2 separate regions of the Homo sapiens genome follow, and region 1 is linked to region 2. The links come from fine-mapping of genetic effects on gene expression. A gene starts in region 2. The other region holds a variant in brackets. All regions are shown on one strand. Distances are between the middles of the regions. Region 1 has its middle 17 kb from the start of UBE2G1. Region 2 holds the start of PELP1 (proline, glutamate and leucine rich protein 1).

Evidence for each region.
Region 1: its variant is fine-mapped to the expression of PELP1 in whole blood (TwinsUK, PIP 0.95).

The regions. Positions count from the first base shown.
Region 1 is chr17:4,381,145-4,386,519 of GRCh38, reverse strand. No RefSeq gene overlaps it. Among named protein-coding and RNA genes, the nearest start is that of UBE2G1, 17 kb to the right of the region's middle. RefSeq lists an enhancer at 3,237-3,736. The variant G/A (reference allele first, on the strand shown) is at 2,504.
Region 2 is chr17:4,701,980-4,707,350 of GRCh38, reverse strand. It overlaps PELP1 (proline, glutamate and leucine rich protein 1), which reads left to right and starts at 3,214. Exons shown (of 17, transcript NM_014389.3): 1 at 3,214-3,488. The coding sequence starts at 3,240. It overlaps PELP1-DT (PELP1 divergent transcript), which reads right to left and starts at 3,121. Exons shown (of 2, transcript NR_103482.1): 1 at 2,981-3,121; 2 at 1,822-2,152. It also overlaps the pseudogene RPS12P29.

The DNA.
Region 1 (5,375 bases), 320 kb after region 2:
AATTTTGCTCCTGGACTGTTATCAGCACAGCCTCTGCTTTTTGCCATCAATAGCCACTGCAGCTCAAAAGTGGAAGGAGTATCTCTACTCCTGGGGCCTCCACTCCCACTGCCCTCAAAAGCTCTGTGTCAGCCAGGCACGGTGCCTCACGCCGGTAATCCCAGCACTTTGGGAGGCCGAGGCAGGTGGATCACAAGATCAGGAAATTCAGACCGTCCTGCCTAACACAGTGAAACTCCGTCTCTACTAAAAATACAAAAAATTAGCCAGGCGTGCTGGTGGGCACCTGTAGTCCCAGCTACTTGGGAGGCTGAGGTAGGAGAATCGCATGGACCCAGGAGGCGGAGGTTGCAGTGAGCCGAGATCGTGCCACTGCACTCTAGCCTGGGTGATAGAGACTCTGTCTGAAAACAAACAAAATAAACAAACAAAAAAATCTCCGTGTCTCTACAGCATTCTCATCCTCGTACAGCTCACCTCTGAATGGATATCAGCTGCATCTGATTGGATGAGCCTACACTGTATGCCTGAGTGCTAGGGAAGCTAGGTACAGGAGTCTAGCTTCTACCTTGGGGAGGCAGAACTCATCATGTCTTGACATAGAATGGGTTTTCAAAAAGATTCTGAATGGCCAGGCGCGGTGTCTCACACCTGTAATCCCAGCACTTTGGGAGGCAGAGGCGGGCTGATCACTTGAGGCCAGGAGTTTGAGACCAGCCTGGCCAATGTGGTGAAAACCCATCTCTACTAAAAATACAAAAATTAGCTGGGCGTGGTGGCACACACCTGTAATCCCAGTTACTCGGGAGGCTGAGGCAAGAGAATCCCTTGAACCCAGGAGGCGGAGGTTGCAGTGAGCCGAGATCGGACTACTGCACACCAGCCTGGGCAACAGACAGAAACTGTCTCAAAAAAAAAAAAAAAAAAAAGATGCTGGGTGATGATAATATTAAAAAGGTCCACTATAAACCCTATTAGAGACTATCCCAGCCTGGGCAACATGGAGAACTCCATCTCTACAAAAAAGACAACATTTAGCCAGGTGTGGTGGCAAGTGCCTATAGTCCCAGCTACTTGGGGGACTGAGGCTAGAGAATTGCTTGAACCCCGGGGGGTCGAGGCTGCAGTGAACTATGTTCCTGCCACAGCACTCCAGCCTGAGTAACAGAGTGAGACCCTGTCTCAAAACAAAACAGAGAAAACAAAAAAAGAAAGAAAAACTAGGAAACAAAGAAAAATCAGAATGATGTACCTCTTAATGGAAGTACCCAATACTGCATATGAAAGAGTCTAGGAACAAAATCAACCCCAAAGGTGATCAAGCTGCTAGATCCGACTACTGCTTTACACGAAATAAAGAAAATAAGAATGTTAAATGATACCATGAGGACACAATCAGTAAAACCCAGATTTTATTTGTTTTTTTCTATTTGTTTGTTTGTTTTCTGAGATGGAGTTTCACTCATTGCCCAGACTAGAGTGCAGTGGCGCCATCTCGGCTCACTGCAACCTCCGCCTCCCGGGTTCAAATGATTCTCTTGCCTCAGCCTCCCAAGTAGCTGGGATTACAGGCATCCACCACCAAGCCTGGCTAATTTTTTGTATTTTTAGTAGAGATGGGGTTTCACCATGTTAGCCAGGCTGGTCTGGAACCCCTGACCTCGGGTGATCCGCCCACCTCGGCCTCCCAAAGTGCTGGGATTACAGGAATGAGCCAGCGCACCCGGCCTTAAATCCAGATTTTAGGAAACTGTATAGGAACACATGACAAATATTCTTTAATAAATTGCAAGGAAAACAGAAAGATTTTAGAAGAGGGAACCTAGTGATTAAAGGAAACTTAAGAGACACATTAACCAACCAAAACTTATGGATCTTTTTTATTTTTTATTTTTTGAAATGGAGTTTCGCTCTTGTTGCCCAGGCTGGAGTGAAATGGCACGATCTCGGCTCACTGCAACCTCTGCCTCCTGGGTTCAAGAGATTCTCTTGCCTCAGCTTCCCAAGTAGCTGGGATTACAGGCATCCGCCACCACGCCCGGCTAATTTTGTATTTTTAGTAGAGATGGGGTTTCTCCATGTTGGTCAGGCTGGTCTCGAACTCCCGACCTCAGGTGATCCGCCCGCCTCGGCCACCCAAAGTTCTGGGATTACAGGCATGAGCCACTGCACCTGGCCTATGGATCTTTTTCAGGTCATGATTCAAACAAACTATAAATAGAATGATGATGATGATGATGAGACAGTGGGAATATTTGAACACTGAATATTTGATGATATTAAGGAATTATTTCACACCTGTAATCCTAGCACTTTGGGAGGTCAAGGCACTTGAGCCCAGGAGTTCAAGACCAACGTGAGCAACATGGTGAAGCCCTATTTCTACAAAAAATACAAAAACTAGCCGGGTGTGGTGGCATGCACCTGTCATCCCATCTGCTTGGGAGGCAGAGGTGGGCGGATCATGAAGTCAGGCGATCAAGACCATCCTGGCTACCACGGT[G/A]AAACCCCATTTCTACTAAAAATACAAAAAATTAGCCAGGCGTGGTGGTGAGCGCCTGTGGTCCCAGCTACTCAGGAGGCTCAGGCAGGAGAATGGTGTGAACCCGAGAGGCAGAGCTTGCAGTGAGCCAAGATCGGGCCACTGCTCTCCAGCCTGGGTGACAGAGCTAGACTCCATCTCAAAAAAAAAAAAAGAAAAAAGAAAAAAAAAAAATGATCTGTTGCTTAGAAATGTTAAGTTTGGCCAGGTGTGGTGGCTCACACCTGTAATCCTAACACTTTGGGAGGCCGAGGCAGGCAGATCACTTTAGGTCAAGAGTTCAAGACCAGCCTGGGCAACATGGTGAAACCCTGTCTTTACTAAAAATACAAAAAATTAGCTGGGCATGATGGCTAGCACCTGTAATCCCAGCTACTTGGGAGGCTAAGGCAGGAGAATGGCTTGAACCTGGGAGGCGGAGGTTGCGGTGAGCTGAGATGGTGCCATTGCACTCCAGCCTGGGCAACAAGAGCGAGACTCTGTCTCAAAAAAAAAAAAAAAAAAAGAAAGAAAGAAATGTTAAATTCAGCTCCCAGGATTTTGAACCATTAAGGAATCAGCTCACAGCCTCTTCATACTCATCACACTGTGGGTTCCTTTATCCCTGTGTATCTGCATGGGCCCCTGTAAAGAATGGGCAAGGGTGGGTGTGGTGGCTCACGCTTGTAATCCCAGCACTCTGGGAAGCTAAGGCGGGTGGATCACCTGAGTTCAGGAGTTCGAGACCAGCCTGGCCAACATGGTGAAACCCCATCTCTACTAAAAATACAAAAATTAGCCAGGCATGGTGGCACACGCCTGTAGTCCCAGCTACTCAGCAGGCTGAGGCAGGAGAATTGCTTGAACCCGGGAGGTGGGAGTGGCAGTGAACCGAGATCTCACCACTGCACTCCATCCTGGGTGACAGAGTGATACTACCTCTCAAAACAAACAAACAAACAAAAAACCGCCGGGCTCTGTGGCTCACGGCTGGGCACGATGGCTCACACCTGTAATCCCAGCACTTTGGGAGGCCGAGGTGGGTGGATCACCTGAGGTTGGGTGTTCGAGACCACCCTGACCAACATGGAGAAACCCCGTCTCTACTAAAAATACAAAATTAGCTGGGTATGGTGGCCTGTAATCCTAGCTGCTCGGGAGGCTGAGGCAGGAGAACTGCTTGAACCCAGGTGGCGGAGGTTGCAGTGAACCGGAGATCGCACCATTGCACTCCTGCCTGGGTAACAAGAGCGAAAACAAAAACAAAAGAACAAAACAAAAAAACAAAAGAATGGGCAAAAGGTCTTGGGATTCCCGAAAAGGGCTGATTTGGGGTCTAGGTGAGGTGAGGTGTTAAAGGAATTTAATGTGTCAGATGATATTTGTGAGGCCATGTCATGAACCACTGTTCATGCCTATAATCCCAAAGACTTGGGAGACTGAGGCTGAAGGATCACTTGAGGCCAGGAGTTCAAGATCAGCCTGGGCAGCATAGTGAGATCCCTGGCTCTACAAAAAAAATCTAAAAATCAGCCAGGTGTGGTGGCGAATGCCTGTAGTCCCAGCTATTCCAGAGGCTGAGGTGGGAGGATCGTTTGAGCCCAGGAGGTCAAGGCTGCAGTGAGCTATGATGGTACCACTGTACTACAGCCTAGATCACAGAGTGAGATCGTGTCTCCAAAAAAAAAAAAAAAAAAAAAGACAATATTTATGTTAAGCCTTGAAGGACAAAGCAAGAAGGGAATTTCTGAGCAACTACGGCATGCCAAGTATTCTGCTGAGCCTTTGTCTGCATTTTCTCATTTAATCTTCACAGTAATCCTGTGAGGTTGTATTCCCTTTTTATTACATGACAAAACTGAATTGGCAGGCAGGAAGTGAGGCTGTCAATATTTCAGAGCCAGCCTTTAGTCTCAGCACTGCCATTTGGGGAAAGGAGACTGGTAAATTGGCAATTTCAGCACAGGTACTGTTTCTCACCAGCCAGTGCTGGGCAATCAATAAAAATCCAGAAACCTGTTAGCCCCAGCAGGGACCTACCCACTGTGCGAAGAGGAGGAGGAAACCTTGGCTGTCATCACAGCAGCCAGAAAGGGCACCACCACTCTTTGGCTTCTGCAGTCTGGGCCGACACCAAGAGTCTGGACTTTTCTGCTCACAGCATGTCTATGAACCTGGAAGAGTGGCATCAAATGCTGATGTCCTGAGCCACAGGCTCAGGGCAGTCCCAGGCTGGGGGATGCCATTCCCACATTGTGACTGCTTTTTTTTGAGACGGAGTTTTGCTCTTGTTGCCCAGGCTAGAGTGCAATGGCATGATCTCCGCTCACCGCAATCTCTACCTCCCGGGTTCAAGCAATTCTCCTGCCTCAGCCTCCTGAGTAGCTGGGACTACAGGCGCCCACCACATGTGATTGCTTTTAATCACCCTCCCGCCTTTCAGGGTCACGGATCCCAAGCCCCTTATGAGCCTTGTCTTCAGTCACCTGCTCACTGAGGCTGTCTTTTAAGCAGAAGTTGTGTTTCCTGCCCGTGTCACCCATAGCACGCCAGGAACTGTTGTCACCCTGGCCACTCTAAAGAGCTACATCTGCTTCCTTGGAGCTGTTTCTGATGATGAAAAAGTCATAAAAAGGCTGGGTGCAGTGGCTCATGCCTGTAATCCTAGCACTTTGGGAGGGCAAGGTGGGAGGATCACTTCAGCTCAGCAGTTCAAGACCAAGCTGGGCAACATAGCGAGATCAAAAAAAAAAATTTTTTTTTTTGAGACAGAGTCTCGCTCTCCCGCTCTGTTGCCCAGGCTGGAGTGCAGTGGCAGGATCTTGGCTCACTGCAAGCTCCGCCTCCTGGGGTC
Region 2 (5,371 bases):
TGAGCCAGAAGAATCACTTGAACCTGGGAGACGGAGGTTGCAGTGAGCTGAGATCGTGCCGTTATACTCCAGCCTGAGTGAGAATAGTGAAACTTCGTCTCAAAAACAAACGGGCCGCGCGTGGTGGCTCACGCCTGTAATCCCAGCACTTTGGGAGGCTGAGGTGGGCGGATCACGAGGTCAGGAGATCAAGACCATCCTGGCTAACGTGGTGAAACCCTGTCTCCACAAAAAAGTACAAAAAATTAGCCGGCATGGTGGCAGGCGCCTGTAGTCCCAGCTACTTGGGAGGCTGAGGCAGGAGAATGGCCTGAACCTGGGAGGCAGAGCTTGCAGTGAGCCAAGATCGCGCCACTGCACTCCAGCCTGGGTGACAGTGCGAAACTCCATCTCGAGGAAAAAAGAAAACAAAAAACCTCCGAAAAACGAAAAATGAGCCAAATATAGTGGCTAGTGCCTAGAGTCTCATGTACTAGGGAGGCTGAGGTGGGAGGATCGTTTGAGCTGGGAGGTCAAGGCTGCAGTGAGCTGTGATCATGCCACTGCACTCCAGCCTGGGGAAATATTTTTTCAGCACCTTTTATGTACCAGGCACTGTTCTAGGTGATAGGAATAGCATAGTGTAGGAGACAGGAGCCCTTTCATGGAGTTTGTATTTTAGACAAGAGATAGTTAATAAGAAAGCAAATTTCTGGTAATGACATGAATTATAAACAGGCAAATGTGATGGAGGCTGATGGGGGTTGGAGTGGGAGCTACCGAAAAAGAAGTCGTCTCAGGATGGCAAAATGGCGTTAGTTACATAGAATCAAAGGACAGTTTCTCCAGCATAATCAGCAACATGTGCAAAGGTTCGGATGTGAGAATGGGCTTTGCTGGAAAATAGAAGGCTAGCGTGGCTCAAGAATAGGAAGAGAGAAGGAAAAGGGTACTTGTGGTATGTGTTGAGGTCAGGGAGGTGGGTATGAGTCAGATTGGGTGGATTCTTTTAGGCCTCAGTGACGAGATGGGATTTCATTCTCATCACATTTGGAAGCCACAGAGGGGTTGAAGCTAGGAGTGACAACAACTTGTTTACATTTGAAAAGACCACTTTGGTTGCTGTGTGAAGGGACTACAGGGTGCTAAGAGGGAAGCAGAGAGCAACGAAGGCTTTGTAATAGACTAGGTGAGAGTGAATGGTAATTTGGACCGGAGCGGCAGTGGAGATGGAGAAAAATTAACGCTATTGGGTTAATGTATTTTGGAGGCCTTGAATGCCAGGACTTGAAGGATTGGATAGGAGGCAATAAGAGGAAAAACGGGCCAGGTGGGGTGGCTCACACCTGTAATCCCAGGACTTTGGGAGGCTGAGGCCGGCAGATCACTTGAGGTCAGGAGTTTGAGACCAGCCTGGCCAACATGGTGAAGCCCCGTCTCTACTAAAAATACAAAAATTAGCTGGGCATGGTGGTGGGTGCCTGTACTTCCAGCTACTTGGGAGGCTGAGGTAGGAGAATCACTTGAACTTGGGAGGCGGAGGTTGCAGTGAGCCGAGATCGTGCCATTGCACTCTAGCCTGGGCGACAGAGAGACTCCTCAAAAAAAGAAAAATGATGACTCTTGGATTTGAATCTAACAATCACAAAAGTACACAAACATAAACATAGAGGTATTAGCGTGTTCACTACAGTTTGCATTAGCAAAAAGCTGGAGCAGCCTTTAAGCATTAATTCAGCAATAGAATTATTAAATCATGGTGCACCCATTTCATTCATACCACAGTTTAAAAAACAGCATAAAGAAGGCCATGAGTGAAAACAAGCCACACGCAGACCCCAATCTTGTAAAATATTCATTTATGTGCTTGTGCATAGACTAATATTAGGAAAGTATACACGCTACTGGGGCAGGGCTTTGCGGGGGAGGAGCAGTTTTTCTTTTTACTTTATGCCTTTCTGTACTGTTTGAATTGGCTTTTGCAAGGCGCACGTCTTGTATCATTTCTGAAGTTGCAAATGTAGTTAAAAATGTCTGTGATTTCAAGTTACCTAGAGAGTTATTGATTCCTTCTCTTTCCCTGCCGCTGCCGAGTTGCGCGGAGGCGGAGGCTTGGGTACCTTCAAGATTCAGCTTCACTTGTAACCCACCGCCACGGCCGAGGAAGGCATTGCTGCTGGAGGGGTAATGGATGTTAATACTGCTTCACAAGAGGTGCTGAAGACCGCTCTCATCCACCATGACCTAGCACGTGGAATTCGCGAAGCTGCCAAAGCCTTAGACAAACGCCAAGCCCATCTTTGTGTGCTTGCATCCAACTATGATGAGCCTACTATGTATGTCAAGTTGGTGGAGGCCTTTGTGCTGAACACCAAATCAACCTAATTAAGGTTGATGACAACAAGAAACTAGGAGAATGGGTAGGGCTCTGTAAAAATCGACAGAGAGGGGAAACCCCGTAAAGTGGTTGGTTGCAGTTGTGTAGTAGTTAAGGACTATGGCAAGGAGTCTCAGGCCAAGGATGACATCGAAGAGTACTTGAAATGCAAGAAATGAAGAAATAAATCTTTGGCGCGCGTACACACACACACACGTTACTGATTCCTAGGCAGGGTGCGGTGGCTCATGCCTGTAATCTCAGCACTTTGGGAGGCCAAGGCGGGCGGAACACCTGAGGTCAGGAGTTCAAGACCATCCTGGCCAACATGGTGAAACCCCATCTCTACAAAAATACAAAAAAAATTAGCCGGGCGTGGTGGCGCGCGACTGTAATCCCATCTACTCGGGAGGCTGAGGCAGGGAAATCGCTTGAACCTGGAAGGTGGAGGTTGCGGTGAGCCGAGATCGCGCCACTGCACTCCAGCCTGGGCCACAGAGCGAGACTCCGTCTCAAAAAAAAAAAATGAGAGTTATTGATTCCTACAGCGAAGATGTCCCAAGACTCCGTCCGCTAAATGGAAATCGTTCCGACTTTGGCGCCTTTTGTCCGGACCACGTGTACCTTTAACATCACAGGACCGCCTCGGACACGCTCACAGGCAGCCTCATCCGCCATCACTCCGGGAACCGAGCACCCCGCTGCCTCGGCGCCCAGGCTGCTCTCTCCGCGCATGCTCCTTCCCAGCTTGAGCCCGCGAGTCCAGCCTGCCTTCACTCAGTGCGCAAGACCGCAGCCCCCTCCCCACGCCCCCTCCCCAGTAGGCGGCCGTCGCGGTGTGTTTGCGTCATCGCGCCACGCCACCACTGGAACCCGGGGGAAGATGGCGGCAGCCGTTCTGAGTGGGCCCTCTGCGGGCTCCGCGGCTGGGGTTCCTGGCGGGACCGGGGGTCTCTCGGCAGTGAGCTCGGGCCCGCGGCTCCGCCTGCTGCTGCTGGAGAGTGTTTCTGGTTTGCTGCAACCTCGAACGGGGTCTGCCGTTGCTCCGGTGCATCCCCCAAACCGCTCGGCCCCACATTTGCCCGGGCTCATGTGCCTATTGCGGCTGCATGGGTCGGTGGGCGGGGCCCAGGTGAGTCCGTGGCCCGCGTGCCCGCGGCCCTGTGGGGAGGATGGCGCGGCACCTGTGCGCCGGGATTACGGTGCAGTGCAAGTGCGATAGGGAGGTTGAAGGAAGGAGAGCTGCGGGCAGAAAGGGGATCCAGGTATCAGTCCGGACGGGATGCACGTATTTCTCCTTTATCGGCCATGAGTTTCTCCAGGGGAAAAATGGGCCTTATTTTTCTGTTGTTAGGCTATTGGTCGGCACACAGGAATCGATTAGGTTCCAGGCCCGGTCACTCACTAGTTGTATAATCTAAAAGTCTCTTTTTCCTCTGGCAATATCTGTTTCGGGGATTGTTTCGACTGACTGAATGACGCATTCAACAATAAACATTTACCGAGCTCTTATTGAGGGTCAGATACTGTACTAGGCGCTCCGGTTACAGACGTGGTGGCGATACACAAAATGCTGCGAAACAAGATGAGAATTGAATATCAGGGGTCTCTAACCTTATCTGAAGACTGGCAGAGATTTTTCCAAAGAAACCGGCGTTTAAGCTGAGACCCTAAGGATGAATAGGGGTTGGGTAGGGAAAAAATATGGGAGGGGCTGTTCAGTCAGAGGAGAGCTCATGTGGGAAGACCCTGTGGTAGGAAGGAACTGGAAAGAAGGGCATCGTTCCTGGGGCTCAGATGTGGAGGGGAAGAGAGTGGGTACAGATGAGACTGGTGAGATGGGTAGGCAGTGGTCGGGTCATGCAGAGCGTTTTAGGCCGGGTTAGGAGCCTTTGGACTTCTATAAGAATGGAATCTGATAACCATTCAGTTCTGCAAGCTAGACACTCAAGTAATTCTAAACTCTTCTTCATACACCTCCATAAGCAATCTGTCAAGTCCTGTTGATTTTATCCTTTGAGTAGTTTTCAGATCTGTCCACTCTTTTCCATCTTTCTCATTGCTCCCATTCTAGCTTGAACCCCCACCATCTTGTCCGGGTGAAGGCACTGATTCTAAGAAGGCATATTTCTAGCCCATAATAGCTGCTCCTTATAACAATCTCCTATCTTCCCTTCTCTCCCACTAAACCTCCCCCAAATTCTACCCATCCTTCAAGACCCATAAACACGAGATCTTCTGTGTCCACCCTTCATTCCTGGGACCTTCCTAGCTCTATGCTACCTTCCAGGAAGATGGTTGTCACAATTTGCTGGGTGGGTCAATAACCTTAGCCCCAGATTTATCACAGATAACCCTATCTGTTTGTCTTTAACATTACTCTGCATAATTGAGGGTGACAAAACTATATCTCTGCTATCTCAGCCCAATATCAGAGGCTGGAGCTGATTATGTATTTTCTCTTGTCTCTAAATTCCCCTCTTCTAATTTATGTGGTTTTCATCAGTCAGTTATATTACAGTGGGGTTTTTCTGTTTTCTTTATCTCACAATAGTCCCAGAATTATTATTATTTTTGAGACAAGGTCTTACTCTGTCACCCAGGTTGGAGTGCAGTGGCATGATCTTGGCTCACTGCAACCTCCATTTCCCAGCCTCAAGGGATCCTCCCACCTCAGCCTCCAGAGTAGCTGGGACCACAGGCATGCGCCACCATGCCCGGCTAATTTTTGTATTTTTGGTAGAGACGGGGTTTTGCCATGTTGCCCAGGCTGGTCTCAAAGTCCCGAGTTCAGGCGATTCACTTGCCTTGGCTTCCCAAAGTGCTGGAATTACAGGCACGGGCCACCATGCCTTGCCCCCCAGAAATTTTTTTTATAAGTATTTGTGAAATATTACCTATCCCGCCTATAAATGTGTGATTTCTTTCATCATCTCTTTCAGGACTTCCTCTCCTCCCTCAAAGTCAACTACATGAACTTAACGTCTTGCTTATTTTTCTTACATGTCTGAAGTC